5 separate regions of the Homo sapiens genome follow, and all the other regions are linked to region 5. Evidence: fine-mapped expression QTL. A gene starts in region 5. Each other region holds a variant in brackets. All regions are shown on one strand. Distances are from middle to middle.

Evidence for each region. PIP is the estimated chance that this variant, and not a neighbour inherited with it, causes the effect.
Region 1: its variant is fine-mapped to the expression of FOXN3 in whole blood (TOPMed, PIP above 0.99).
Region 2: its variant is fine-mapped to the expression of FOXN3 in whole blood (INTERVAL, PIP 0.92).
Region 3: its variant is fine-mapped to the expression of FOXN3 in whole blood (INTERVAL, PIP 0.97).
Region 4: its variant is fine-mapped to the expression of FOXN3 in whole blood (TOPMed, PIP above 0.99).

What each region holds. Positions count from the first base shown.
Region 1 is chr14:89,362,145-89,368,032 of GRCh38, reverse strand. All of the region lies in intron 2 of FOXN3 (forkhead box N3), which reads left to right. It overlaps FOXN3-AS3 (FOXN3 antisense RNA 3), which reads right to left. Exons shown (of 2, transcript NR_188029.1): 2 at 3,025-3,639. Among named protein-coding and RNA genes, the nearest start is that of FOXN3-AS3, 15 kb to the right of the region's middle. RefSeq lists an enhancer at 2,519-2,568. The variant G/A (reference allele first, on the strand shown) is at 2,962.
Region 2 is chr14:89,565,122-89,571,009 of GRCh38, reverse strand. It overlaps a transcript of FOXN3 not described here. Among named protein-coding and RNA genes, the nearest start is that of FOXN3-AS2, 8.2 kb to the left of the region's middle. The variant C/T (reference allele first, on the strand shown) is at 2,382.
Region 3 is chr14:89,342,151-89,348,038 of GRCh38, reverse strand. The region is part of intron 3 of FOXN3 (forkhead box N3); the gene reads left to right. Among named protein-coding and RNA genes, the nearest start is that of FOXN3-AS3, 5.2 kb to the left of the region's middle. The variant C/T (reference allele first, on the strand shown) is at 3,097.
Region 4 is chr14:89,354,978-89,360,865 of GRCh38, reverse strand. All of the region lies in intron 2 of FOXN3 (forkhead box N3), which reads left to right. The region is part of intron 1 of FOXN3-AS3 (FOXN3 antisense RNA 3); the gene reads right to left. Among named protein-coding and RNA genes, the nearest start is that of FOXN3-AS3, 7.6 kb to the right of the region's middle. The variant C/T (reference allele first, on the strand shown) is at 2,681.
Region 5 is chr14:89,414,596-89,420,483 of GRCh38, reverse strand. FOXN3 (forkhead box N3) reads left to right here and starts at 3,251. Exons shown (of 6, transcript NM_005197.4): 1 at 3,251-3,613. FOXN3-AS1 (FOXN3 antisense RNA 1) reads right to left here and starts at 3,130. Exons shown (of 2, transcript NR_036500.1): 1 at 2,688-3,130; 2 at 691-1,324. RefSeq lists silencers at 2,870-3,159, 3,200-3,409 and enhancers at 3,105-3,399, 3,024-3,556, 3,557-4,090, 4,105-4,399.

The sequences.
Region 1 (5,888 bases), 52 kb after region 5:
ATAGCAGAACTCAGCAGTTTCTGAGGTAGACACACACCTGCCGAGGTCAGCAGCTCCTACCTTTTGATCTCACAGGAACATAATTGGTGAGGAGCATGGGATGCTGGGATTGAGGAAGATACGATGCTTGGGTTGAGTCATTTACCTTTTAAATTCTCTACCATAGGCCTCTGGGAGACGAGGGGAGGGTTTCTGGGGCAGGAGGCCGGCTTGCTGAGCCCTGGCTCTCTGGACAGCCACTGGGACAGATAGCTCAGGCATCAGTGCCTTTTCCACGTGGTTGCTGCCACTGTTCCCAGGGGCCAGGTCAGTTGGTCTTTCTGGGTAGATTCTGTTTGTTTAATTTTTTCCTCCATCCCCCTACCCGTGAATCACAGTGTGAATTTATCCCCTGCGTCCAACCCCCGTTCTGTCTCCCTGACCCTGTGTTCCCGCTGGAGCACTGGTCTGGCAGCCTCTTACCTGCAGTTTTCCCTGGCACCCCTGTCCTCTCCCTGGCAACCTCGGGCATATCCTCTGGTTCCCGGGTGCTTTGTCCATATCTTACCCAGCGCTGACAAGAACGCTGGAGGAATCGATAACACTGACAATGTTATTTGGTCCCTGCAGCTTCTCACATGTGGGTCGGAGATGGTTTCGGATTTATCTTTGGAGCCGGGTGCCGCCACATCAGGGTGCAGTCGGTGTTAGACACCCTTTGTTGAAAGGGATCTGCTTCATGGTTGGAGTGAGTGCTTGTTCTAGAATTGAGAGGCACTGTAGAGGCAGTGTCTCCTTAAAAGTGGATGTGTTGGTTGGCCGGATGCTGTGGCTAAAAGCCAGGCTCACAACCCAGGAACTCCCAGGAAAGTTCCCTGTTGAAAATTAGGGAAGATGGGTGACTGGTGATCTCGTGGCCAATGGCCACTCCGCAAGAACAAACACCAAACAACCCAGTGTCTGTGTTTCACTGAGAGAGAAGGGCTCATGATTATTTATTAAAATAAAAAAATCATAACTGAAGCTCTCTGGCTTAGTACACACACCCTGTCACTGTTACCTGGCCAGGTACTTTGAACAACTTCCAGTTATGGAAATATGGTGATCAAATTATGTGCCAATTTGATAAGATCACATTGGAACATTTAAAAATAGATGAGTAACTACGGACAACCAGAAGATAAAGTGGCAGTAGGTGGGCCAGTTGTAATCCAACCAAGGGCATCCATGTGTCAGGCCCACGTTACCTTTATTGCCGTCCATAAAACCTGACTCGTTTGTTACTGTGTGCAGCATGGAAATCACCTTAAAGAAAGTGGAGGTACTGGAAGGAGTGCGCGCCCAGTTGCAGCCTGAAGTCAGAGCTGGCTGTCAGCTGCCCCCTCCACTTCATTCAATATGCTTAGAAATTCTTTTACTAGGCCTTGAGCTTTAAAAATGAATATTTATGTATTTAAACACATTATTTATGTAAATGCAATGAGTGGTGAATTTTATTTCCCCTCATCCCTACTAGCACTGTCAGCTTGCCTTTCAAACTTTTTTTTAAAAAAGGCACGAAGAGGGCAATTTAATGTATGTCTTTTACTTTACCATTTATCCTCTTTGTAATTTGCTTATGCAATTTCGACTTTAAGATTGTGGGTGTGATACAAACAACTGTTAGAAAAAAAGAGGAACATGCCCACGTTCCAGACAAGTTTACCACATCATTGTACATTCCTGTTTCCTATCAGGAGACAAAACTTTTCAAATGTGCATGTTTTTTTCTATAATAAAGTTTTTTTTTTTTTCTTTTTTTGAGACGGAGTCTCGCTCTGTCGCCCAGGCTGGAGTGCAGTGGTGCAATCTCGGCTCACTGCAAACTCCGCCTCCCGGGTTCATGCCATTCTCCTGCCTCAGCCTCCCGAGTAGCTGGGACTACAGGCATCCGCCACCACACCAGGCTAATTTTTTTGTATTTTTCAGTAGAGACGGGGTTTCACCATGTTAGCCAGGATGGTCTCAATCTCCTGACCTCGTGATCCACCCGCCTCGGCCTCCCAAAGTGCTGGGATTACAGTCGTGAGCCACTGGGCTCGGCCTATAATAAAGTTATTACAGAATAACTTTATGTTAGTTATTCTAGTTACTTTATGTTTCTCTGTAATAATTATTTAACTTTCATGTTAAATTTTAAAATCTCTCCATGTGTACTTTGTGTGTACGTGAGAGTTTATGGCTTCATGCCACATAATATATTGAGTTCATTTGAGTAATAGTTTGACTCTTTGAAGTGGCATAGCATGGCAGCTATTAGAAGTATATAAAACGATCCGCTTTTTAGCTTCCTGTGTGTTTTGCATGTGTTTGAAGTTTTTTTAAATGCTTCTGTGCCTCTACCCTTTTTAGTCAGCCTATGTCATGCGATGAGGTTTCAGATGGAGAAGAAGAGTTAAACCCTTATTTGCTAAAGGCCCTCCCAAGACAGAGTGGTAAAACTAATTTGGGAGGATCCTAAGATTTAGTTGGATAAAACCGATTTAGCTAGATAGTGATTTTAAAGATGCCACCTCTTTGGCCTTCTGACTTGGAGTATGAGGGGTGTGTTTCTGTTTCCTTTTCTTTATTAGAACTTAGCAGTGTAGAGTTTGACAGTATTTCAAAGTCAATATAATTTGGATGTTTTCATGATCATTTTATGATTGATCGTTGTTAGCGTGCTAGCTCTTGACTGCTTTTGGCACTTGGGAAACAATAGTGTAGAGAGTACAAAAAAATAACTATTTTCAACCCAAACAAATACTGAGTAGATCTGTCAGCCTCGGGAGGTGACACACTGCAGATGTGTGCTTCCTGTAGCCTCCCCCCTGTGAAAATGACATTGACGTGTGGTGGGGAGAAGGAGGAAGAAGCAGGGCTCTCTCAAAATAGTGAGTAACGGAACAGAGATTCCTGCAAAGCGGAAGCTCGGGGAAATTCTGCGTTTCTTTTGTAATTCCC[G/A]CCCCCACACAACTCTGTCACAGCAGGCTTTTCCTAGAGATTAATTTGGTTTTAGGCAAATCATGGGATTATTTTGGTTTTATTTAGGTGTTGATGCAAGCAGATTATTGATTTTTCCTGCGTCCATTCAAACACGCATAAGCACACACACATACCGTCCAGCTTCTCTACTACAGAAGAAGCATTTACAAGAGTCCTTACAATTCTACCCATGGGCCTAAAAGAATTCCTTCTCCACCTGTTCCACATGCGTTCCCTTGCAGATGGAGGGGCGTTCTGAGGTATATGAGGTGGATTTCTGAAAGACCTGTGGGGCATTAAAATCATCACAGAGCTCAGGTGTCTGAATATCACATAAGTGACACACTAATAGTGATTTCCGTCTTTATAGCTTTTAGAACACATCTGTAAAATAATAGCAAGACAGGTGCAAGAGTGGAAGCCTTTTCATATCTGATATTTAGAGGACATGTCGGTGAGTTTGAAATATTCTGTGGCTGGGATTATCAGGGACTCTGTATCCAGCTCCTGATGCCAAGAACCTGGTGCTGTCTGCAGGGCGCCAGAGCCTCTCCTCCCTGCCTGTTGGTGCTGATCCCAGGAACTAGGGCTACACTGAGGCTCATGGGGCCAGGATCTTGAGAAAGAAATGATAACTTCTCTTTTCCATCTTTCCTTCTGAAAAAAAACAAAAACAAAAACAAAAACAAAAACAAAACAAAAAAACAAACAAAAAGAAACTATTAGAGAGCAAGGTTGGACATAAAACTGAAACTTTCTCTCAGTTATTACAGCAATCTTTTTTTTTTCTTTTTTAATCTAAACTGCTGGAGTAATTGTCGATCTTGTTATGGGAATAGACAATAAGGTATCTAGAAAAAAATTCTTTGTAATCAGTTTTGTTCTTTTTGCCTCTCTTCTTCCCTCTTTTATGTACTTGGCTGGTTTTCTTTTTAAATTTTTGAAGTGTAAACATTTCCCCAATGTCGTTAGACTGTAAATGATAGAATTTTAGAAAATGAAGGGCCTTCAGGAATCAGTCACTTGCTAAACATTTTGATATGGAAGAATATATATATATATTATATATATATATATATATATATATATATATATATATATATTTTACAGACAGGGTCTTGCTCAGTTACCCAGGCTGGAGTACAGTGGCTCGATCATAGCTCACTGCAGCCTTGACCTCCTAGGCTCAAGCAGTCCTCCCATCTCAGCCTCCCAAAAGTCCTGTGACCAGGCATGAGCCACTGCACCTGGCCTTCCTTCCTTACATATTTTGAAGCAGAGGCTGTAAGTTCATGGTGAATAACTTGGCTCTGTTCTGTTTGTTCTTCTGCTAGTACCACCTAACTTCTACTGTGACGTCCCTTGACAGAGAGGAGAATTAAGTGGATTAACTGCCTTTCCCATGCTGAGTATGGTGTTAGGTATATTGTATACGTCATCATCCCATTTAAGCCCAAAATGACTTTTGGAGAAGATGGTATTTTTGCCAATATACAGATGAAGAGATTGTGAAGCTAAGAGGACAAGTGGTTTGTCCATCCAGTAACACAGCAAGTTAGCAGTGTAGACAAGAACCATACCACTTGATCCCCTTGTTGGGAGCTACATGTGGGGATTCTTTCCAGAATGTTCTCTGGGAAAGTCCTGGCATTGCCTGTGGCCCCTCATGGGCACATAGTCATGGGTTAGTTTGTAGTATTTGTCTCTCATGATCTTGAAAGAGACACATGACCCTGGGAACTTGGACCCCATGCAGGGGTTTGGTGGGAAGGCCAGAGGAGGTATGGTGACAAGAACCCAGCCTCTAAGAGGCTGGGGATGTGGGGGTGTTACTGTGGGGATAGCCCAGGTGGGAGCTGGAGGGGCTTCCTGAGCAGGGATGTGAGGCCCCAGGAGGAGCTGGTGCACATGTGTGTGCACGCCTGCAGTTTTAACCCCTTCCTCCCCCAGGGCTCATCTCTTTTGTCCTCTGTTGTCTGGCAGCCCATTGGCCAGCTTGTGTAATCCTTTGTAATCACTTCTTGTTTGTGTTCCTCTAGAGGTTCCCCACCTTAAGGAAACGGACCCTGCCTTTGTGTCACAGGGCCCTGCCCAACTCCTGTGCTGTTAGCTCTTTACAAGCGGTGTTCAGGGACCTGCTTCAAAATCAGGCCCAACGATCCACCTTTCGTTAGGCCCACGGAAGTTTGAATGGGTTTGTGACCCACTGAAGTCTGCATTCTGGCCTGGTGGTGGTGGTGGTGGAGGTGGTGGTGGAGATGGTGGTGGTGGTGGTGGTGGTGGTGGTGGTGGTGGTGGTGGTGGAGATGGTGGTGGAGGTGGTGGTGGAGATGGTGGTGGTGGTGGTGGTGGTGGTGGTGGTGGTGGAGATGGTGGTGGAGGTGGTGGTGGAGATGGTGGTGGTGGTGGTGGAGATGGTGGTGGAGGTGGTGGTGGTCGTAGAGATGGTGGTGGTGGTGGTGGTCGTAGAGATGGTGGTGGTGGTGGTGGTGGAGGTGGTGGTGGAGATGGTGGTGGTGGTGGTCGTAGAGATGGTGGTGGTGGTGGTGGAGATGGTGGTGGTGGTGGTGGTGGTGGTGGAGGAGGAGGTGGTGGAGCTGGTGCTGGAGGTGGTGGTGGTGGTGGTGGAGGAGGAGGAGGTGGTGGTGGTGCTGGAGGTGGTGGTGGTGGAGGTGGTGGTGGAGGAGGAGGAGGAGGTGGTGGTGGTGCTGGAGGTGGTGGTGGTAGAGGTGGTGCTGGAGGTGGTGGTGGTGGTGGTGGAGGTGGTGGTGGTGGAGGAGGAGGAGGTGGTGGTGGTGCTGGAGGTGGTGGTGGTGGAGGTGGTGCTGGAGGTGGTGGTGCTGGAGGTGGTAGTGGTGGAGGTGGTGGTGGAGGTGGTGCTGGAGGTGGTGGTGGTGGAGGTGGTG
Region 2 (5,888 bases), 150 kb before region 5:
TTTCTTATTTAAATGTCTAGGTCATTCTGGATAGTTATAGTTAAAATTTCAACAAAGTTTGAAATGTCTAGAAATGGTTACTTTTATTTGCTGACAGTGGTTATGGATTTGTTGTAAAATCCACTTCCTACATGGGGCATCGCTACCATGGTTAGTCTGAAGGCAAAGGTAGACAACTGAACTTGAGGTCCAAAGACCTGGGTTTAGATCAGGGGTGTCCAATCTTTTGGCTTCCCTGAGCCACATTTGAAGAAGAATTGTCTTGAGCTACACATAAAATACACTAACAGTAATGATAGCTAATGAGCTAAAAAAAAAAAACCAAAATTGCAAAAAACTCATAATGTTTCAAGAGAGTTTACAAATGTGTGTTGGGCTGCATTCAAAGCCGTCCTGAGCCGCATGCCATTGGCAGGCCGTGGGTTGGACAAGCTTGGTTTTCCATCCTACTCAGCTATTCCATGGCTTTATGGCCTTAGCAATCCAATCCCTTCATTTTCCCGTTTTTTCATCTGTAAAATGGGAGAGCTTCTTAATGCATCATGAGGTTTGCTGCAAGGGACACCATGTTTTCGGCTCCACCCTTCAACTGCCCTCCACACTGCTTGGGTGGAGCAGCTGTGAGACTGATATGCCAAATTATAGAACTTGAAATGGGCCACAAGCAATGATGTGCAAGATTACTGTGCCTTAAAAATTACCAAGTGTACCGGCTGGATGCGGTGGTTCACGCCTGTAATCCCAGCGCTTTGGGAGGCTGAGGCAGGCGGATCACGAGGTCAGGGGATTGAGACCATCCTGGCTAACATGGTGAAACCTTGTCTCTACTAAAAATACAAAAAATTAGCCGGGCGTGGTGGCATGCACCTGTAGTTCCAGCTACTCGGAGGCTGGGGCAGGAGAATCGCTTGAACCTGGGAGGCGGAGATTGCAGTGAGCCGAGATTGCGCCACTGCACTCCAGCCTGAGCGACAGAGTGAGACTCCGTCTCAAAAAAAAAAAAAAACATACCAAGTGACTCCACGTGTTTCCTGTCTTCCCTGTGGCCAGGTGAGTAAGTAAGCCTTGCCGGAGCTCTGCACTGGACTCAGCTCTTGAGAAAGTTAAATTGAGTTTCCTTTTAGGCCCTTGTTCCTTGTGGATAGCTCCCTGGGTGGTAAGAGGAGTCAGGGTGATGGCCAAGAGCAACACCTGATGGCTCCCCATCAGGTATGATGATGGTGCCCTTTGGCAGGCACGGATCTGAGGCCACAGATGTATAGATGTTGTATAGATGACTCCTCTCACTCTGGTCTGTAAGTCCCTTAAAGGCAGCAACTAGTTTTTCATTTTAACTATTATTCTCCATTGCCTAGAACAATGTCTGGCCTCAACAAATATATGTTGGATTAATTTGTCATGATCAAGATTTTCTGGTGGCATGAAGTTTTCTTTGAGGTTGATTATCTATGTCAGTGGTGTGTCCAGGTAGACCTCCAAAGTAGCCATACATTTTAAGTTGGTTCAGTATACAGTGCTCAGTGTGATCACACAGCCGCCTCATGGAGGAAGCAGCATTTCCTTTAGGAGGTGGAAATAGAAGGCAGGCCACAGCTGCAGCTCAGCAGAGCTGGGCTGAAATCTTACTGGGAGGACTTGTTACAGCCCACTGCTCACCCAAGGTCACTTTCCACTACCTACGTATTAAATACTACTTTCCCTGACTCTTAGATGGGCACCCACCCCCACCCTCCATGCATTTTGCCCTTCTGCTGTCAGTGGGTAGTCTGGGTAGGATAATGGAAATGGCACCTTTCTTTTTCTTTGAGACGGAGTCTCGCTCTGTCCCCCAGGCTAGAGTGCAGTGGTGCGATCTTGGCTCACTGCAAGCTCCACCTCCCAGGTTCACGCCATTCTCCTGCCTCAGCCTCCAGAGTAGCTGGGACTATAGGCACCCGCCACCACGCCCGGCTAATATTTTTGTATTTTTAGTAGAGATGGGGTTTCACCGTGTTAGCCGGGTTGGTCTCGATCTCCTGACCTCGTGATCTGCCCGCCTTGGCCTCCCAAAGTGCTGGGATTACAGGCGTGAGCCACCGTGCCCGGCCAATGGCGCCTTTTAAACATAATCATAACTCAACTTGAAGTTTATCTAAGAAAGGGCCAAACCATCCATGATCCAAACCATGTGTAAATACATTTAGGAGCTTCCTCCTGTCACATAGACTTTTTTTGGGAAATAAATAAGCATTTTATTTATTCATTGTGAAAAATACTGAATTTCTCATTTGTGCCAAACATTATGCTAGTTGTTGGGTTATGGAATAAGAAGACCAGAGGGGGCCCTTGCCAGCAAGGAATTTCTGTATAATTAGCAAGTAAACAGACAAGTGGAACAATTG[C/T]AAATTGTGATAAGAAGCAAGAAAGGACGCAAATGTTAGGGGCCAGCCCTGAGGAGCTGACATTTACAAAGAGTCCTAAAAATCCCGAAGGAGTTCACTGTGCACATGGTGGAAAGGGCTTCCGTGCTGAGGGCAGAGCCTGTGCAAAGACCCTGGGGCTTGTGGAAGGAGCGACTGTGAGGGAGAGTGTGGCATGGATGTGCGGGGAGGTGGTCAGGGGCAGGGAGGAGGTTAGGTTTATTCTAGCTCTCATGGGAAAACATCGGCCAGTTTCAAGCATGAGAGTGGCATGGTCAGGTTTCTATTCAGAGCATCCCTTCTGCTGTTTCATGCAGGATGGTTCATAGGTGGGCAGCAGTGCAGTCACGGAGACCAGGTGAGCGAAGTCCCTGGACTAAAGTGAAGTACAGAAGTGGTGAAGATGTAGAGAACTTTCTAGTGCATTAGAATGGAAGCGGGGAGGGAAACAAAGTCCTCAGATGCTGACATTTAGGAGGTGACAATTACTAAGATGGGAGAAATTTGGGGGGGCAGCGAGAGGATAGGTTTTAGGGGAGGATAGGTTTTGGGGAGAAGTCTCAAGTTCTCTTTGAAATCAACGAGATTTGGCCGGGCGCGATGGCTCATGCCTGTAATCCTAGCACTTTGGGAGGCCGAGGCGGGTGGATCACGAGGTCAGGAGATCAAGACCATCCTGGCTAACACGGTGAAACCCCGTCTCTACTAAATGTACAAAAAATTAGCCAGGCGTAGTGGCGGGCACCTGTAATCCCAGCTACTCTGGAGGCTGAGGTAGGAGAATGGCGTGAACCCGGGAGGCAGAGCTTGCAGTGACCCGAGATCGCGCCACTGCACTCCAGCCTGGGAGACAGAGCGAGACTCTGTCTAAAAAAAAAAAAAAAAAAAATCAACGAGATTTGTTTGGTGGCACAAAACACCTTTGAAGCTAATAGGTAACTGTAACCTTCCTTGTCCTTGCCACTCATTAATTGTATCATGTGCCAATAAATAATCTTCCCTTGGTACCACTTTGTACCTAGTACAGTCTTCCCTTAGTGCCACTTTGTACCTAGTACAGTCTTCCCTTAGTATCGCTCTGTACCTTTTACAGTCTTCCCTTAGTGCCACTTTGTACCTAGTACAGTCTTCCCTTAGTGCCACTTTGTACCTAGTACAGTCTTCCCTTAGTACCACTTTGTACCTAGTACAGTCTTCCCTTAGTATCGCTCTGTACCTTTTACAGTCTTGCCTTAGGACTACTTCATACCTAGGTTTATACCCCATCCTACCCTCAGAAGTGAGCACAATTATCTGCTTGCAGTAGATGCTCAAGAAAGAATTGTTGCTGACTTGTCTGCACCAAACATTTCCAGCTTATTCAGAGCTTGACTCTAAAGCAAGGAAAAAGGAACTGGTTAAAGGGGAAGAGAGGCAGATGAAGGGTTTTGTGGTGGTGATGATGAAACAGGTAATTTTCTAAAAAGAGATTTTAGCTGAATGATGAGGAAAAAATGAAAGAGTAGTTTTAGGGAACGCACCTGGATGTCTGGTCCTTGTGCCACCATTATTAGCCATATACTTGTAGCCTTGGGTCAGTTGGCTAGAGGTCACAGATACACACCTGTCTTTTCTTTCTCTTTCCATTTTTCCTCCTTTTCTCCTCCCCACTCTCTTATTCCCACCTTAGAGGAAAAAAGGCAAGGGAGGAGGAGGAAGAGGGGAGAAGGAGGGGGTAGGGGAAGGAGGGTAAGGAAGAGGAGGGGGGTGAGAGTAAGAGGAGGTGGAGGAGGAGGAGGAGGAAGGGAGTAGGGGATGAGGAGGTGGAGAAGAAGGAAGATGGAGTGAAAGGAGGAGGAGGAGGAGGAGGAGGAGGGAATGGTAAAGCCACAGGCTTCACCCAGGTGTCCTAGGGGTAGGAGAATATGTAGCTGCTATGACACACAAATGTGAATGAGTCTAGAATAATCTCATTTCCCGAAAACCAACACAATGAACATAATTTTCACTTCCCAGTTTTCCATGTCCTGGAAGACTGAAGCCAGTGATGGCAGTACCACTTATTAACCTAAAGTGCATTTCCGTGATATGTCCCATGTCCTGAGCTAGTAATTTTTGACAAAGCACAATAATGAAGCAAGCGTCTTGTGATTTTAAAAGCTAAGCACTTGCTGCATTTTTTTTTAAAAAAATTATTTCTTCCCTGTAGGAAAGTAAAGAAATCCGTGATAAAATAATAATTAAATGCTGACAATGCTAAATTTCTACCCAGCGTGAGCTGGCAGCAGTTTTATACCAAAACATTAGGTCATTTGAAGAAAAAAAAAATCTGATTAAATACCTCTGTAGGCTTTTCTGATTAGCCGTTCTTAAAAGAGTCAGTGACAGTAATGAAAGGGTGTCATTTGACAGCCACAATTTACTTTTGAAAAAAAGGTAAAATAGTACAGTGTGTATGGGTGAGGTTTTTACAGGAATTTCTTGTTGGTCTTTACTCGTGGGATTTGTTTTACTAATTGTCAGTTTCTAGCAGTTCCGAGGAGCCCACCGGCCAGGAATTATGTGAGATGAAAAGTAAGTGATATTCTGGGGCGAGGGTCACAGGGACAGCTTAACTGCCAGGATTTCTTTTCTTTCTTTTACCCCTTCGCTACACAGCAGGTTTTATATTTCCGGGGCGAAATGACCTTGACACTAGCAGGTTAGAGAAATAAAATGTAGTTGCAGAGATTCTCCTTGCATCCCTTGTATTAATTTTCTGCGTTTGGCAGCTCCCAGCATCTCTTTGTGTTAAGTTGCTGTGGCATGAGGGCTGCAGGCCAGATCTGACGTGAAGATGGAATGATTATGTGGCATATGGCAAATGCAACCACCACCACTAATTACTCTTTCTTTCCACTTTCTCCTTGACTTCTACTTGTGGGCATAGGGTTCTGGAGTTTGAAAGTGGTTTCCTTTTTTTCATCTCCCCTTTGGTAGATATGAGACCAAATGCCTATTTTGGCTATGATGTGATAGAATCCTAGAGCTTTAAAGCTAAAAATGGCCTTAGGCCTCGTCCAGCCCAAACACTTCATGTCAAAGATGAGGACGGCGGGCCCAGAGAGCTTCACCTGGGCAGGGATTGCAGAAGGGAGCCTGGAACTCGATCATGTCTCCCAGGTCCTGGGTGAGTCTGTGTTTTTTCTTTTCTGTCCTACCTCTTAAAAGTGGACATGAAGCCAGTGGATTTGTTTCTCTGGGTTGCCATAACAAAAGTGCCACAAACTGGGTGGGAAAGCAACAGAAACTTACTCCCTCACAAGTTCTGGAAGCAAGAAGTCAAAATCAAGGTGTTGGCGGGGCTGTGCAGCCTGAAGGCTCCAGGAGGGGATCTGTTCCATGCCCTTCTCTTGGCTTCTGGTGTTGCTAGCAATTCTGGGCGTTCCTTGGCCTGGGGTAGCATAACCCCAGTCTCTGCCTCCATCATCACGGGGTGTTCTCCTTGTGTCTCTCTGTTGGTATCTCTTC
Region 3 (5,888 bases), 72 kb after region 5:
GCCCAGACCTTGCTCACATCCAAATACCATGCTAAATATTGAGATGTGTAGACCCGTGCCTCTGTTTTCCTTTTTTGCTTTTTTTTGAGACGGAGTCTTGCTCTCTCTCCAGGCTGGAGTGCAGCGGTGCAATCTTGGCTCACTGCAACCTCCGCCTCCTGGGTTCAAGGGATTCTTCTGCCTCAGCCGCCTGAGAGTAGCTGGGACTACAGGCAGGCGCCACCACACCCAGCTAATTTTTGTATTTTTCGTAGAGATGGGGTTTTACCTTGTTGGCCAGGCTGGTCTCAATCTCTTGAACTCATGATCCGCCCGCCTCGGCCTCCCAAAGTGCTGGGATTACAGGCGTGAGCCACCGCGCCCGGCCCATGCCTCTGTTTTCTAAAGTGCCCTTTTGAATGTATGTTAGGATGTTCTTCCACACCTGCTTTGTTGATACCAAATTTGTGAATTGTTTTTAATCGAAGTGCAGAGCTCAGCGTGGAGTACTTCAAACCAAGTGACTTAAACAACAGAAACTTACTGTCTCAAGGTTCTGGAGGCTGGAAGTCCGAGACCAATGTGTCGGCAGGGTTGGTTCCTTCTGTGGGCTGTGAGGGAGGGTCTGTTCCACCCCTCTCTCCTAGCTTCTGGTGGTTTACTGGCATTTTGCTGGAATGCTTTTGGCCTTCCTTGGCCTGTCGAAACATCACTCTGATTTCTGCCTTCACCTTCACTTGGCATTCGTTTTCTCCATGTGGTGTCTATGTCCAAATTTTCCCTTCTTGTAAGGACACACTGGTCGTATTGGCTTAGAGGCCCATCTTTCTCCCGTAATAATTCATCCTATTTAACTAATTACATTTTCAATGGCCCTGTTCCCAAATAAGGTCATGTTCAGATGTACTGGGGGCTAGATCTTCAATGTAGGAATTTTGGGGAGGCATAAATCACCCCATAGCAACCCTTTTCTTAAGGGAGACATTTTGCTGATGAATATATGGAGAAGCAGAAAGTAAGGAAATATTTAAAGAACAAAATGGTGGGGTGGGGGGCAGGGGTGTCAAAGGGATTCGCCTGAAGTTGCTCCTAGTAGCCAAAGCTGGGACGGTGATGAGCAGCAAAATAAATAACATAGTGTTGGATTATAACTGGAAATATAAAATAAATACCTATGAGTCCAGACTGATAGAAATAAATGATTGAATAAATAAACAAACAAATAAATGAGAGAAGAGACACAATTCCCATTCAGAGGGTTCCAAATGCTTGATGTAGCTCTTTCTCCACTGAAAGAGGTGGGACGGAACTCTCCACTCCTGGAATGGCTGCACTTAATGACCTACTTCTAAAGATGAGAGCATGGAAAAGGTTGGAAAAGGGAGTTTGGAGTGGACAAACCTGGTGAACAGTATGCCACAGGTGATGAAAGTACCATCCTCAGTGATGTGATGTTGATACCGGGTACCTCTCGTAGGACATCATAAATTTGGCACTTCAGCTTTGTGGTCTTTCTCCCCAAACTCATAACCCCTGTCTAGTCATGGGAAAAACATCAAACAATGATTTTGTCCTTCAGCAGGGACATTCTACAAAAATAACTTGATCCTCACTCCTCAAAGCCCCAAGGTCATCAGAAACAGGGAAAGTCTTAGAATCTATTACAGACCAGAGGAGACTAAGAAGACATGATGAGCAAATGTGTCCTATGATGTCCTGGATGGGATCCTGGAACAGAAAAAGGACATTAGGGGAAAATGTGCAAAATATGAATTAACTGTGCAGTTTAGTTAATAGTAATAGTAGTATGCTGCATGTTTATAGCAGCACAATTTGCTGCTGCAAAGATATGGAACCAACCTAAATGCCCATCAACCTATGAGTAGATAAGGAAAATGTGGTATATATACACCATGGAATACTACTCAGCCATAAAAAGGAACAAAATAATGTCTTTTGCAGCAATTTAAATGCAGCTGGAGGCCATTATTCTTTTCTTTTATTTTTTGAGACAGGGTCTCACTCTGTCGCCAGGCTGGAGTGCAGTGCCGCGATCTCGGCTCACTGCGATCTCTGCCGCTCAGGTTCAAGTGATTCTCCTGCTTCAGCCTCCCGAGTAGCTGGGATTACAGGCACCTACCATGAAGCCCTGCTAATTTTTGTGGTTTTTAGTAGAGACGGGGTTTCACCATCTTGGCCAGGCTGGTCTTGAACTCCTGACCTTGTGATCCACCACCTCGGTCTCCCTAAGTGGGATTACAGGCGTGAGCCACTGTGCCCGGCCTGGAGGCCGTTATTCTAAGTGAAGTAACTCAGGAATGGAAAACCAATGGAAAACGTATGTTCTCACTTATAAGTGGGTGCTAAACTGTGAGGAAGGAAAGGCATGAGAATGATATAATGGACTTTGGGGACTCGGAGGGGAGTAGGGGGAAGGTTGGGAGGGGGATTAAGGATAAAAGACTATCTATGGGGTGACAAGTGCACTAAAATCTCCGAAATCACCACTAAAGAATTTATCCATGTAACCCAAAACCATCTGTACCCCAAAAACTATTGAAATAAAAAAATAGTAGTATACCAGTGTTGTGACAAGTGCCTTATTAGTAATATATGGTGTTAACATCAGGGAAAACTAAGTGAGGGGTATGCAGGAGCTTTCTGTGCTATCTTTGTAACTTCTCTTTCCTTTTTTTTTTTTTTAAAGCAGTCTCCAAAATGCAGACTCATTGATCAATTTTAGATATCCCGATTGTTTTTGGTAGAATGAAAAGTAAAATCACTGCAGCACTGAGAGTTGCCTGACCTACTTTAGTGAAGAGCTGATTGTGAAGGGCTCTTGCTTTTGCCTCATTCTCTGGAAGATCTGCTGAGCCACACGAGGGGTCTCTTTGTAGTTTGGATACTACAGTTCTTGGAACGTTAGTTTTGTGAAATGGCACTCCACTGTGCTTTGTAGAGTACCCGTGGCTGAGCTCGGGCTACTCATGCACACCGAGCCACGCCAGCTTGCTTGGGGAATCTACACCTTTGCCAAGGAGACTCTGGCGTGGGGCCTTCGGAATCTAGATCTGGAAAGTGGAAGGAGGGGTGGTGTGTTTGGGTTGCTTGCCCGTA[C/T]CTCTTCGGAAAAGTCCACTGAGCTGTTCTAATCTTTATGTTGCCTGTGCCCCTCCTTCCTAGATACGTCATTTCTCATTAAAGAATATGCGTATTTTAATGTTTCCAGTAGACATTGCCAAATTGCCTTCTGATTTTACACTCGGTTCTAGTCCACATTCCCACCAACTTTTTAGGAAATTTCTATTTTTCTAACCTTTCTCAATGTCTGACAGTTAAATGAAAAGACAGTTCCTCAATGGGTGACCTTGACTTTGTGATTTTGGTACTTATAGTGGGGGTATTTAAACTTCGTAACACTACATTAACACCCTATAAACAGCAGCTCTCCCCATAATAATGTTTATGACAACAGATTGTTTTTAGAGAGTGACATATATATGGGTCTTATGTAATACCTTCTCTGCTATAGGCACCAATCCAAAGTCAGTTTCCAGAAAAACATTTTAATCCTCTCTCACCATGGTTGGAGAACAGGTTTTGCATTTAATCAAACAGTATGGTTTATGGAGAGTTTCCTGGATGATTGGTTTTCAGAGCCAGCGTTGTTTTGTGTTTCCTTGGTAATTCCAAAGAAATCCCAGCATCCTACGTACCTTTGGCCTCCATGATGGATTGACCATGATTGGGTGTTAGATGGTCAGAAACTGAGTGAGATGGTTTTTTTTTTTTTTTCTTTAATGAGCTTTCCCTTTTTTTGCTTTAAAATTTTCAATGTAAAAATAATGACATCATAGTCTATATTTCATGTAAAGTATTGTGGCTTAACATGTACAAAGTTAGAAAAATCCACAAGACTCATTTGCTGATCTAGGTCTAAAGATTTATTTTTTGGATGACTATAAAATTTGCAGAGTTAGAACATTTCAAGAAAGTTTCTCGGCTCGATGCGGTGGCTCACGCCTGTAATCCCAGCACTTTGGGAGGCCAAGGTGGGTGGATCACTTGAGGTCAGGAGTTCAAGACCAGCCTGGCCAACGTGGTGAAACCCCATCTCTACCAAAAAATACAAAAATTAGCTGGGTGTGGTGGCAGGCACCTGCAATCAGCTACTCGGGAGGCTAAGGCAGGAGAATTGCTTGAACCTGGGAGGTGGAGGTTGCAGTGAGCCGAGATTGCACCATTGCACTCCACCCTGGGCAACAGAGTGAGACTGTCTCAAAACAAACAAACCAACCAAAATAAAGTTTCTTTTACTCTCATCTTTTTTTTTTTTTTGGAATAAATTCCAGACATTTAAGCTTCTCCTTTTAGCTGTTTCTGTTTGCTTCCTCAGAGGAATTTAACGAGCCGCAAAAAAGAAAAAAAAAAAAAACCACACACATTAATGGCCTCTCCAAAGATTTTGGCCTTTCTGATATTGAGGTTCTTAATGAAAATGGCAGATTTTAGTGCTGACTCAGCAAGTTCTATTATCCTGCCTGCTGCCCTATTGATGTCCTTTTTTTTTTTTAATTTAAATGTCTTCATAGAGTAATACTGCTAAGGGTATAGAAATTGTACAGAGTGGTCACTGTATATTCAAATTAACAAAGTTATCAGTCATTGTTCACCAGGTAAATAATCTTTGGCTGTCATAGTGAGGCTGGGAATAGTAGATAGGGGAATTGCATTGGGAGGAGGTGGGGAAGGTACTGAGGTGTTTAGGGAACTCATCCTTTTAGACAATTAGAAGATTAGAAAATCCTTAAAATGTTAATCTTGTTAACATAACGGTGTTAATTCCTCCACTCAGAATGCTGAATTTGCACACAGCAAGGAATAGCTTATTCATTGCTTGGATAGGATCCAATAATTTTTTAATTTATAAGACATCTTTCATTCTAGTTATTCAGAGTGTTGTGCGTTTAATAGTTGGCAGAAGCACTGCAAAGCCACAATGAAATCAGTTTTAACTTACATTGAAGGACTTTAATTGTTAGATTGTGGTGTCATTGCAAGTGTTAATTCAGTCAAGCATAAAGAAAGATTGCAAGGATTTCGATTAGTTGCTTCATTATTACAAATATATTTACTTGAAAGCAACATATTTGATGGAAACCCGAAATAGTTTTTTAAATGCCCCTCATATTCAATACACTTATTTGGATAAGTTTAATTTAAAAGCGTGAGGCATTATGCATTTTGAAAGATTATGTTTAAACAGCACTTTTTGCTGGGAGTAATTTTTGAAAGAATATTAAATTTAAAAAAATCAATATGAAGCTTCATGGTGCTAAACAGGTAGGAGAGTGTGGTAAATTAATGCAGTAAAGTAGATGTGGGATTGAATACCGGGGCTTTCAAAGTGGTAGCACTTCCAAATATACATTATATTTTGTTAAAAAATTGGAGGGGATGAAGAATAGGAAAGGCTTAAATTGTAAGGGCACACTCTTTAAAAAACACAGTGCTCATTGACAGTGGGAGCTTTAAAAATCCATTAGTTGGCTATAATTTTATTTTCATATCAAATCATGTTGTCTTTTGACTTCCATTATATTTCCTGAGTTGGTCTCATAGAATAATTTTGTTCTCAGCATTTTGCCTTCGGTATGCTGTTCATTATACGTTTAATTCTGAGTCAATCCTGTGTTGTTTTATTTAAATGGAAAACAGTCCCTGTTATCTTTGAGCACTTTGTATCAGGGGTAGCTCATGAATATTATGCCCAGTCATCCAATTTCATTCTGTTTTCACACTCACTTTGAAAGTTGAATGTTTAAGTAGCTGGGCTGATTATATCTATTTTACTCAGGTACTGAGTCAAACTCGTGACTGAGAGAACCACTCCGAGTTACCTTTTTATCTTC
Region 4 (5,888 bases), 60 kb after region 5:
GAGGTGGTGGTGGAGGTGGTGCTGGAGGTGGTAGTGGTGGAGGTGGTGGTGGAGGTGGTGCTGGAGGTGGTGGTGGTGGAGGTGGTGGTGGAGGTGGTAGTGGTGGAGGTGGTGGTGGAGGTGGTGCTGGAGGTGGTGGTGGTGGAGGTAGTGCTGGAGGTGGTGGTAGCTGAGGATGAGTTTTGTGGAAACATGGGGGAACCTGCGGCTGTGAGGGTATCAGCTCTTGCCCCAGCCTTCCTTCCTTCCCTCCTTCCCTCCTTCCCTCCCTCTCTCCCTTTCTTCTTCTCTCTCTCTCTCTCCTCACCTCCTTCCGTCACTCCCTCTGTGTCCCTTTTTTTCCTTCTCTCTCTCACCGTTTTTCCCTCCCTTCCTCTTTCCTTCCCCTCTTTCTCCTTCCCTCCCTCTCCCTCTCATCCTTTCCCTCCTCCCTTCCTCCCTCTCTTTTTACCTCTCTCCCTGTCTTCCTGCCTCCCTCCCTCCCTTTCCCTTTCTCCCTCCCTCCCTCCCTCCCTTTCTCTTTCTCCCTCTTTCTTTCCTTCTCTTTCTTCCCCTCTCTCTCTCCATCCCTCTCTCTTCCTCTCTCATCCCTCCCTCTTTCCCTCTCTCCTTCCTCCTTTAGGGGCAGCTGGGCCCTGAGGAGTTGAGCCAGAGCCAGGTCCAGAGGAGGAGGCAGTTTTGGCGGGAGGGGAGGGCATTTTGTGCAGTGGGGGCAGAAACGCAAGGCCAGTGTGCAGGGGCCCCGGGGAATTAACTGGGCACTCATAGTGAAATAAACCTAGGCCGTTTCCAGGAGAAGCCTTCAAGCCTGCCAGATCCTGGGAGACCGTGGCATATGCTGGACAGAATGACAGCTTGATGAGGAGTACCAACTCTAGGCCACCTCTCTATAAAGTTACAAGTATCTTTTGGTGATGAGGAAGTGGACCATATCCGCTCCAGTTCCCACCATGAGCTCAAGGATCCGTGAGAGAACAGTGGCCTCAGAGGCCCAGCTGCCCCAGCCAGGGAGACCCTTCTCTTATCCACCTCTGCCCACTCCAGCTTTATTCTCTAAGTCAGGCTGTTGCCCTGTCCTGCTCCCTTGCAGTATCGGGGTCAGGGCCTCTCCTCCTTAAGGAAGGAGGTGGCAGGTGGTAAGCCCTTTGGGGCAGGACCTCTCTAGGAAGCCCTGGACTGCCATACCGGCCGGAGCATCTCTCAGTGTGCACGAAGACATGACTCAAAGCAAGTAGCTTTCTCAAAGTCCCATGTCCTTCTTGGCACTACTCCAGTGGCTGGCTCTTTGCTTTGTTCTATTTCGATCCTTCCATTTCCACCTCTATCTTAGTGCATCTGAGACAAAACGCTTCTTTTGGACCAAGGAAATTAACATCAGACTATGGAAAACAAATAGTCATGTGCAATTTTTTTAGATGAAATCTGCATGATTTCACAATTTGACAAGTACCTATTCCATCAGGCAGGCACTGAATGGTTTGGAGCTCAGTGTCAAGGAAAGCTGGCTATTTAATATTTTGTTGCCATCATAATAACAAGAGCTGATTTTTTTTTTTTTTAATTTTATTTTGAGATGGAGTCTCGCTCTGTTGCCCAGGCTGGAGTGCAGTGGCGTGATCTCGGCTCACTGCAACCTCCACCTCCTGGGTTCAAGCGATTCTCCTGCCTCAGCCTCCCAAGTAGCTGGGATTATAGGCACCTGTCACCATGCCCAGCTAATTTTTTGTATTTTTAGCAGAGACAGGTTTCACCATGTTGACTAGGCTGGTCTCAAACTCCTCAGGTGATCCTCTGCCTTCCAAAGTGCTGGGATTATAGGTGTGAACCACTGCACCTGGCCCGAGAGCTGATATTTATTGAACTGTTACCATGTGCCAAGCAAGCACAATATTATCTCCTTTAATCCTCACAACAATCTTGTGAAGCAGGTATTATTAATTCACTCCCATTTTATGGATGAAAAATTTGAAGCTCAGAGCAGTTATGTATTTTGCCCAAGTCCACACAGCTGAGAAATTGAAACAAGACTCAGACTCGGGTCTGTCTGACTCCAATGTCCATGTCAGCCAAGTAAGGGCTCCCCTTTGAAAGCACAATAATGTGTTTCTCACTGACCCCACACATGGGTGGTACTGGCCTAGAACAGAAAGCTGGCTGTGTTGAAACTGTGAAGGAGTTGGAGACATGAGGACCCATGTATTCTAATTAATCTGTAATCACACGTTCCCAAAGCATAGAATGATGGGCCTTTGGGATGATTTCATCTCAGCACCTAATTTATAGATGAGGAAACTAAGACCCGGGGTGGGGAGTGAGCTGCATGTATGCCATGATTACTCAAGGCAGTGATGGTAGGTGCAGCCCAACCAGGTATGTGTTCTTATTACGGATGGGGTAACTTACTCTAGTCCGTGTCTGTATCCCCCAATGGGGGTCTTCCTTTTCGACCTTGGAGCACTTGACTTAGGCCATCATCCACACCCCACCCATCCCACAGGACCCAGCCCAAATCCCTTAACCCTGAAAACTCCTTCTCTGGTTTTTAAGTTTCCTAAAACTGGGAGTTGTGAGTCTCAGTCCTGGGTACCAGTATTGGAGCTGTAGGGCAGTGGGCAGTGAACTATGGATAATGTTTTTGCAAATAAGGTCTTACTGAAGCCCAGCCACGTTTATCTGTTTA[C/T]ATTGATGGTTGCTTTTGTGCTATGATGGCAGAGTTGGGTTGTTGCAACAGAGACCATGTGACCTACAGAGACTATAGAATGTACTTTGAGAAGCCGTTGGACCTGGCCATGCATTAGAGGACCTGGTAACAGAAAGAGAAGTTGTTTAAGAAAAGTTTACTAACCCCTATTACAGAGGAACCAGTTGATGTTAAACCTCTAAAGCCAGACAATCTCAGGCCTACCATGACATTTATGAGCTTCTGCTAGAAAGGTTGGGGTCAATGAGGGTATAGCAGAGGGGAGAGAGGTGGCTTATGCAGTCCATTCCTCCAGATACAGTCGCGCGTTGCATAATAGCGAGAATAAGTTTTGAGAAATACGTCGTTAGGCAATTGCATCATCATGAGAACATCACAAAGTATATGTACACAAACCCAGTTAGTATATGTTTATATACATATTTTTTCATATGGAAAATCAAATGATCCCACACCATTACTGAATATCAATTACTTCTCCTACTTGATCTGCATTGCCAGTGTCAACTGCTGTTTATCAGGTTTCTAGCTCTCTCTCTCTCTCTTTTTTTTTTTTGAGATGGAGTTTCACTCTTGTTTCCCAGGCTGGAGTGCAGTGGCACGATCTCGGCTCACCGCAACCTTCGCCTCCCAGGTTGAAGCGATTCTCTTGCCTCAGGCTCCCAAGTAGCTGGGATTACAGGTGCATGCCACCGTGCCCGGCTAATTTTTTGTATTTTTAGTTGAGATGGTGTCTCACCATGTTGGCCAGGCTGGTCTTGAACTCCTGACCTCAGATGATCCACCCGCTTCAGCCTCCTGAAGTGTTGGGATTACAGGCGTGAGCCACCACGCCCTGCTCTATCTCCTTTTTTTAAGAAAGAGACAGGGTCTTGCTCTGTTGCCCAGGTTGGGGTGCAGTGGCACAATCATAGCTCACTGTAACCTCAACTCCTGGGCTCAAGCAGCAGTCTAGCTAATTTTTATTTGTATTTTTTGTAGACATGGGGTCTCACTGTATTGCCCAGGCTGGTCTCAGACTCCCGGACTCATGCTGTCCTTCTGCCTTGGCCTCCTAAAGTGCTGGGATTACAGGTGTGAGCCGCTAACTGGCCTCAGAGTACATTCGGGAGCTGTCCTCCTTTCTCCGTCTCATTGCTGCCCACCTGAACCAACACCCATGGTCATCTTGGTCCTGGACCGTCATATCAGTTCTCTGCAGGTGCTCTTGCCACTTCCAGCCCATTTATTTCTCACACAGCAGCAACTTCCTTTCTTCTAACTCATGGCTTATTCTGTTTCCTTCCTAGCAGGTATTACAGTCTGTCATAATCTTGCTTATTTATTTCTTTACTTACTGTGTTTTTTCCCATCTATAATCCAAGCTTCAGGAGGTCGGTCTCCTTTTTGTATTGTTTTGTATTCACAAGTGGACCCTTCATGGTGCCTGGCATGTAGTAGGCACCACAGGAATGAATGAATGAATGCATGAGCGTATGAATGAAGGAATGAATGAAGGTGGGTAGTGTTAGAAGCACCCTCCAAAATGGTGTGTCAGAAACATCAAAAGCTATTGTTTCAAGATCACCAACACACACCCAGCTCCCCACTCCATTTCGTTTTCAGTTTTTGTCTTGTTTTAATATCTCATCAGCTTTACAGGGTTACAATTGTCTTAAATATTTCTGAAGTGTAAATATCATCTGCATAATAAGGTTGTTATAAAATGTAAACTTTCTGTGTTGTTTTAATTTAATTTAATTTAATTATTATTATTATATATTTTTTTGAGATCGAGTCTCGCTCTGCCGCCCAGGCTGGAGTGCAATGGCACGATTTTGGCTCACTGCAACCTCCGCCTCCAGGGTTCAAGTGATTCTCCCGCCTCAGCCTCCCAAGTAGCTGGGATTACAGGCACCCTCCATCATGCCTGGCTAATTTTTGTATTTTTGTAGAGATGGGGTTTTATCATGTTGGCCAGGCTGGTCTTGAACTCCTGACCTCAGGTGATCTGTCCACCTCGGCCTCCCAAAGTGCTGGGATTACAGGTGTGAGCCACCATGCCTGGCCTGTCTTAATTTTAAAGTCTAAAAATCATACTTTTTTTTTTTTGGTCCTTTTTTCTTTTTTCTTTTTTTTTCTTTTCATACCTGAATGTTCTGCACAAACTGAAATTGTTACAGGCTATCCCTCCCTGGCCAGGGCAGAACAGGCCTGGGCAGAGGTGGTGCCTGCTCCACTTTGACATGGGGCCTGCCTCCTTATCCCCGTTCTTTAGGCACTGCCCCAGAGCCACGTGTAAGTCCCCCACTGTTGCTAATAGGGGGCTTTCTTCCTCACAAGTGGTGAGAAGGGGGAAAAAACACAACCAGACACTACTGTCCTAGATCAGTGGATACCAAACTTTGTTGACCCGGCTTCCCAGTAAGAAGTGTATGTTACTTGGTGATCAGTAAACATGTATATACACAACTATGCAAATACAAATTTCACTATATGTTACTGCAGATATATGGTAGTCCATTCTATTTGGTTCTAGTTTGTTACATTCTGTTCCATTAAAACAGTGCTGCTTATGATCCATTCCGTTCATTTCATGACCCATGAATGTATCTGGCCCACGGTTTGAATAACAATGTTTAAAGTATAGGCTGGGCGTAGTGGCTCATGCCTGTATTTCCAGCACTTTGGGAGGCCAAGGCAGACGGATCACCTGAGGTCAGGAGTTCGAGACCAGCCTGGCCAATATGGCGAAACCCCGTCTCTACTAAAAATACAAAAAAAAAAGAAAATAGTCGGGCATAGTGGCGGGCACCTGTAATCCCAGCCTCTCGGGAGACTGAGGCGGGAGAATCGCTTGAACCCGGGAGGCGGAGGTTGCAGTGAGCTGAGATTGCGCCACTGCATTCCAGCCTGGGCACGACAGAGTGAGACTCCATTTCCACAAAAAGAAAAAAAAAAATTACTTTTTTTTTTTTTTTTTACATTTTTGCTAACCATTTCTTCCTACAATATGGGCTCTTGTTTGCTTTTCTTTTTGTGCATTGATTTTTTATTTTTAATAGAGAGTTGATTTTTATTCCCCCAGGTGGTTTTTAATTTTAAAAGAAACTTGGGCTCATCCATAATTTTTTTTACTCATTTTTCCATGTAATTTTTCTCAGTTTTTTTTCTGGGGGTGTTAGTGTATATATACACACAAAAATGT
Region 5 (5,888 bases):
TGGTTCTGATGGGCATCCCCAGGTGAGAAGCTCAGGTCAAGAACACCCCTTCCCCATTTCCACAGGTTAAACAGCAACCCACCCTTATTAGATATCCCACTTCCAAAGTCATCTCCCCTCCCTTCCCCAGATGTTTCACCATGTCCCTTGTCTCAGCTGTTAGCAGTAGGGAGTGGTGGGGGGCCATGCGCGTAGGGGAGTCATGTGACTCAGGCTAGGCCAATCGCACTATTTCCCTGAGAAGTTAAACTATGTCATGGAAGGCTTGAGGCAGTTCAAAGGTGGTGGGTGCTAAAAGTCAGAAGGCCTCAGGGCTTGCTGCTGGCAGCCCTGTGTGGTTATCATTGAGCAGAGGAAGCCAACCTGCAGGGTAGAGAGTGGAGTCACCTATAGAGGGAAGCACGAAAGGAATATGGTTCTGTGCAGGCCAGCGGTGTGTGCCTGCCCAGCCTCCCCGTATTTCCTCTCATATATCCTTTGTACTGGAGTCTCTTTGCAGGATCCCTCCCCAGAAGACTGTCTTTCCAGGCCTGCCTCGGACTCTTCCTATTTTGGGCAGTCTCTCAGGTCTTCCCGACTGCACCTGCTCACCTACTCAGTTGTACTGCCTCAAGGGGGGCAAGGTATATCGGGTTTTATACTTAACTATTCCATAAATAGCCATGCTGCTCTAATAACCAATACAGTGTGTGTGTAGGGGGATTAAAGTTCTTGACCAGAGAAACATTTAGCAAAAGAATGCACAAAACATCAAGGGAGGGGCGCTCTTCTCCTTGGAGGAGGAACTGAGGTCCCACGCTGATGGGGGCAGATAAGCCTGGAATTGAGGACTTCCAGCTCCCAGATACTTATGTACTCTCCAGCCCATGCTCAGATGGGGCTGCAGAATGGTCCCATCAAGTCCTCTATCAGGAAATAAGTGTTTCTCAAAGTGATTTCTAGGGCACATATACAATTCGGCTGTTAAATGTGTTTGTAAAACAGTGTAGACAAGACATTAGACAATGCAGCTTGCTTATTTGTGACTTCTCAGGACCTAAGACGCAAGGGTCCTTTCTGAAAGTTCATGGGGAATTGTGAATGGGGTTGTTCCCAAACAAATTTGGCCCCTGCACCCTAGGTCAGGAAGCAAGTCCCAGAGCTGAGGTTCTATGGAATTAGAAGGTGGAAAAGGCCACATTAAGCCCTCCTTTGGCTTTCAGCATTTTTTCCCCCATTTCAGATAGACCGACAGGCAGACATGTGTCCCCTGCTGTCCACATCAGGCAGGGCTGGTCCACCACTTCCTCTTCAGGGTGACACCTTCTCACATCTCTTGCTGCAACTGTAATGGGAGAGAGAAATTAAGAAATATGTTTGAGAATGCAAGAAGCAAAAACACACATGGAATGACATATTCCATGTACAATCACCTTTGGCTCACATCCCCTCTTTTTGAACTCTGAGAAAGCAGGAGGGGACTGGGGCCGGTGAAAATAAGGTGCCACCTCTACTTAATATAAAGAGATTTCTGGCTATTGTGTGAGTGTAGCTGGGGGACTTGGGGGTGGGGTTGGGGGCTGGGGATGGAAGAGGAAGATGTAAGGGGGCGACTTCGTCCTCTCTAGGCCAGCAAGGGCTTGGACAAAGGTCTCTGGCCTTGGTTCCTCTGGCGGAGAATAAGCACCCTCAACTGACGCGCTGATGGAGGGGCAGGACCTGCATTAGCCGGAGCTACAGGAAAGCAGGGTACACATTGTCTCATCCTGGCTTTGTTACCACTTCTAACCCTGAGAATCTCTGGCGTGAGACTTCAAAGATCATCTGACTTGTCTCTGCCACCTTGTGCCTTTTGCTTAGTGACTTTGGGTAGGTCGCATCAAGTGCTCAGTAATCAAAGGGGTGGGGCTGGATGACCTCAGGCTACCCCTGGGCTTCCACCTCCTAATTGTCTCCAGATGGGGAGATGCCACACAACTTGGAAGTAGTAAGGTCTCCGGTGAGTCTGAAAGGCACATCTTTGCTGAAGACTTGTCACCTGCCCTCTTGAACCTTTGTTAGGGGGAATGACTCTCAGATTGGGGGGGGGGGGTCTATTTTTTGAGACAGAAAAAATTTTCAGAAGCCTAACTGGTGTTTCCCTTAGTCCCTCCTTTTGGCTAGGTTTAAAAGTACTGCATGCTAGAAAGCTTTCTCCAGGTCTACTCGCTGTTTTTTTCTGTAGTTTTCAGACCGCTCACGATGTCCTGTCCACTGGCTCAGGAGGGGGTGGCAGGAAGGGTGCCCTGGGCTTCTCCTCTGTAGAGGAACCAACCAATTTGGCTACCTGGGAGTAATGTGCAATCACATTTTTATTTTTGTCACCACCAGGGTGTCCTGTTGGACTCTCTCCTCTCATCCTCTCCCAAGGCGGCTGGTTGGTGTGGCTTTAGCAGTGGGTGCTATTATTTGGAGGTGCCTAGAGACTTAGAGTGGTGGCTGCACCATTTCGCTGGGTGGCTTGCGAATTGTCAGTCTGGTTCCTGAGAGCTCAAACTGAGATGGAAATGAGACCTGTTTTCTCTCTAGGCCGGCCGGGGCGTTCCGCACAACCCACTTGAGAGGCCCCACCGGCGTGGCCTTTAGGACGGTGCCTCTTGTCTTGTAATGGCCACCGGCCCTCCCTCGGGAGACACGCGGCCACCTGGGTGGGACGCTGCGGTGCTTACCTCCGGGACACGAGGTGGTCGCTGGGAGAGGGCTCGGAAGGCCCTGGGGGTCCTATCAGGACGCAGCACTGGGGAGACGTGGAATCTCCTCTTCTCACCCCCACAAGCCTCGCCCGCATCGTAATTCTTTTTATTTTTACTTTCGAGCCATGTAAGGCATGCAGATGGGGTAGGAGCGTTCCCGCGACACGTTGCCAGCAGCGCAGCGCCGGCCCGCTCGTGTGGCCGGAGCCCGGGGAGGGGACAGGGCACGCGCCGCCTGACCCACCTGCCCCACCGCCCACGGTCGCGGCCGCCCTGGGTCGCGGGACCCGCGCCGGTCACCCCCGCCCCGCGGGGCCCAAGAGGCGAGGCCGCGCGGCCCAGCCCCGGCCTCCGCCCTGGCTGAGTGCTGGGGCGCGCGAGGGGCGCGGGCAGGGTCCGCCCCGGCGGGTCAGTGCCCCGCGCCCCAGGCCGCTGGCGGCCAGGCCCACGTTTTCCCTTTCTCCGGCTCCCTCCGCCCTCCGCTCTGTCCCTCCCTCCGCCCTCCTCCCTCCCCGCGCTTCCCCTCCTCCTGCCTGGTCATGTGTCGCCTTTTTTTGTTTGCAGTGGAAACAATTTCTCGCCGCTCGGCGCGCCCCGGCCCGACGCGCCGCGGCGGAGGCGAGCGGGAGGCGGGACGGGGCGGGGAGAGCGGCGGGGCCGGCGGGAGGACGCGCGGCGCGCCCGGCGGACGCCGCAGGTCCCATGCCGCGCCGCGACCCCCGCGCCCCTGCCGCCCGCGCCCGCGGCCGCCCCCCGCCGCCCGCCGCCCCGGGCTCGCCGCGCCGCGCCCGCGCGTCCTTAGCGGGGCCACCGAGCGATGCCCGCCGGGCGCCCGCGAAAGTTTGTCGGCTCCTGCTGAAGGGCAGCGGCGCCCCCGCACCCCCGTGCCCCGCTCCGGCCAGGTGAGTTTGCACCCCGCTCCTGCCGGCTCCCGCGTGGGCTCGGGGGGCACCCGGGGCGGGAGGCGCGTCCGAGACGGTCCTGGAGACTACCTCGCCGCTCTGGGAAGACGAGGGACCCCGCAGGTCCTGGGGGGAGGGTCGGGTGTGGACCCCGGGAGCCCCCGAGCCGGGAAGTTGCCGGGTCCGAAGAGTTTCCTGCCCCGACGTGCGTGCTGCTTCCCGGTGCCTCGGTTTCCGAAAAGACGCCCGCAAGGAACAGAGTTGGTATTGTCTGCGGAGGACGGGGTCCCCGCCGTTCCGGGCCGGGGAGGGGGTTCCGATCAAGTGGAGACCCCAAGATGAGAAACAGGCTCCTAACAAAGATCACCCCCCGGCCAAACTGTGCAGACTTGGCACAGGCAACGAACGTCTCCGGAGACCCCCGAGGCCCGACCCCCCTCATCCCGGCCCTGTTTGAAACCCTCCTTGGGCCCTGGATAAGTTGGGGGACGGCGGGCTTTTATTGATTTGTTTTCGAGGCTCGCCGCGGTGCGGCCAATAAAAGGTTTATGACATCTGACCGGCAGTGAAGGTATGCGAGCTCCCAATTGCCCTGTATATGGGGATAAGAGCAGTTTCCCCCGTTGCCCGGCAACGCCGCTGATTGACGCGGGGTGCAGCCAATCGCCACTCCCGCAGGTCCCCTTGAAATGTTTTTGACAAGTACAGTAGACGAGAGTGAAGCGCGTGCGTGCGCGCGCGCGCGTGCTGGGTGGGCGGGGGTGACCCGGCCCCCCAAACTCGCTACTGCTCGGCTCTGGGAAGATTTCTTAACTTTTTAAAGTTCGCATCGAACATCTGTTCAGAGCTGGGCCAGTAATGTCTTTGTCAGTTATTTGGAGACCTTCTGTTTACTAGGCGAGAAACTAAGCTTTCTTGCCGCATTTTCTCCGTTAAAAAATAAAGAGGGTAACAAAACACAGCAAGTCATAAAAAAAACAAAAGAGGGTGTGTGTGTGTGTGTGTGTGTGTGTGTGTGTGTGTAGAGAAAAGTTGTAAGGAGGTCACCAGTGAATAACTATTTGCGTATCTGGTGGAGCAGCCTTGTTGGCAGCAGATTAAAAATGTTTGCTTAACTGCAACTCACATGATCCAGATTCTTTTTTTTTCCCTCTGAAACAGGAGGAAAAAAAGATTTGGCGAAATCTGTAGTTAGAGTATAATAATGGAAAACTCCTCAGCTGTGGTTTCTGGGAACTGTTTTTTTTTTTTTTTTTTTTTTTTTTTGGTTATTGTTGTTTTGTTTTGTTTTTACATGGAACTGTAGTGATCAGCAGCTCTTCACCCTGTTGGTATAAAATGCGGGATTTATAGGGATGCAGTGAGTGGTTGGAGAGTACGGGGTCCCAGCACAAAACGCACACATGATCCAAGGGTACTGAACTCCCATAACCCTCTCTTCGTGACAATGCCACTTTTTCTCCTAAAACCATATTGCTGGCAGTGTTTGTTTAAAACAAAAGGAAACATGGAGAATAGCGTGTTAGTTCCTCTGGGAAGCTACTGACAAATAAGCAAATTAAAAAGAAAGAGAGCAGCATGTTGTCATAGCAACAGTGCAATTAAATTACTTTACTGTCAGCCATGATATAATTTTCCTGTTTGGAAGCTCAGGAGACATAAAACTTTCATTTAGAGCTAAAGTTGACTTCAGTGGCTGGGTAGTTCTGTTTTATACTCTACTGTGGGCATATGCTGGTCATCAGAAAATTTTCTGATGGGATCTGAGGAAACTTTAAGAAAGACAAGTGGTGCTATAATTCGTTCATAAAGAAGTTAAAAGCAGGATCAGACCAGACTCTGTTGTATCCCCAAGCCAAAAGATGCTAGCTTGTTTTTTGTCTGAAATGTGTCAGGGTAACCTCCTTATTTGACAGAAAGAAATATTCCCTGTGAGTGAACCCAAGACGTCTGGAGCATCCTGCCTGGTCTGTACTGCAATGCCTCATGAAGTTTTCTCTCCTTAAGAGTTGGGCATCTTGGCCAGGCGCGGTGGCTCACGCCTGTAATCCCAGCACTTTGGGAGGCCGAGGCGGGTGGATCACGAGATCAAGAGATTGAGACCATCCTGGCCAACATGGTGAAACCCCGTCTTACTAAAAATACAAAAATTAACCAGTCATGGTGGCACACGCCTGTAGTCCCAGCTACTTGGGAGGCTGAGGCAGGAGAATCTCTTGAACCTGGGAGGCAGGGGTTGCAGTGAGCGGATTTTGCACCACTGCACTCCAGCCTG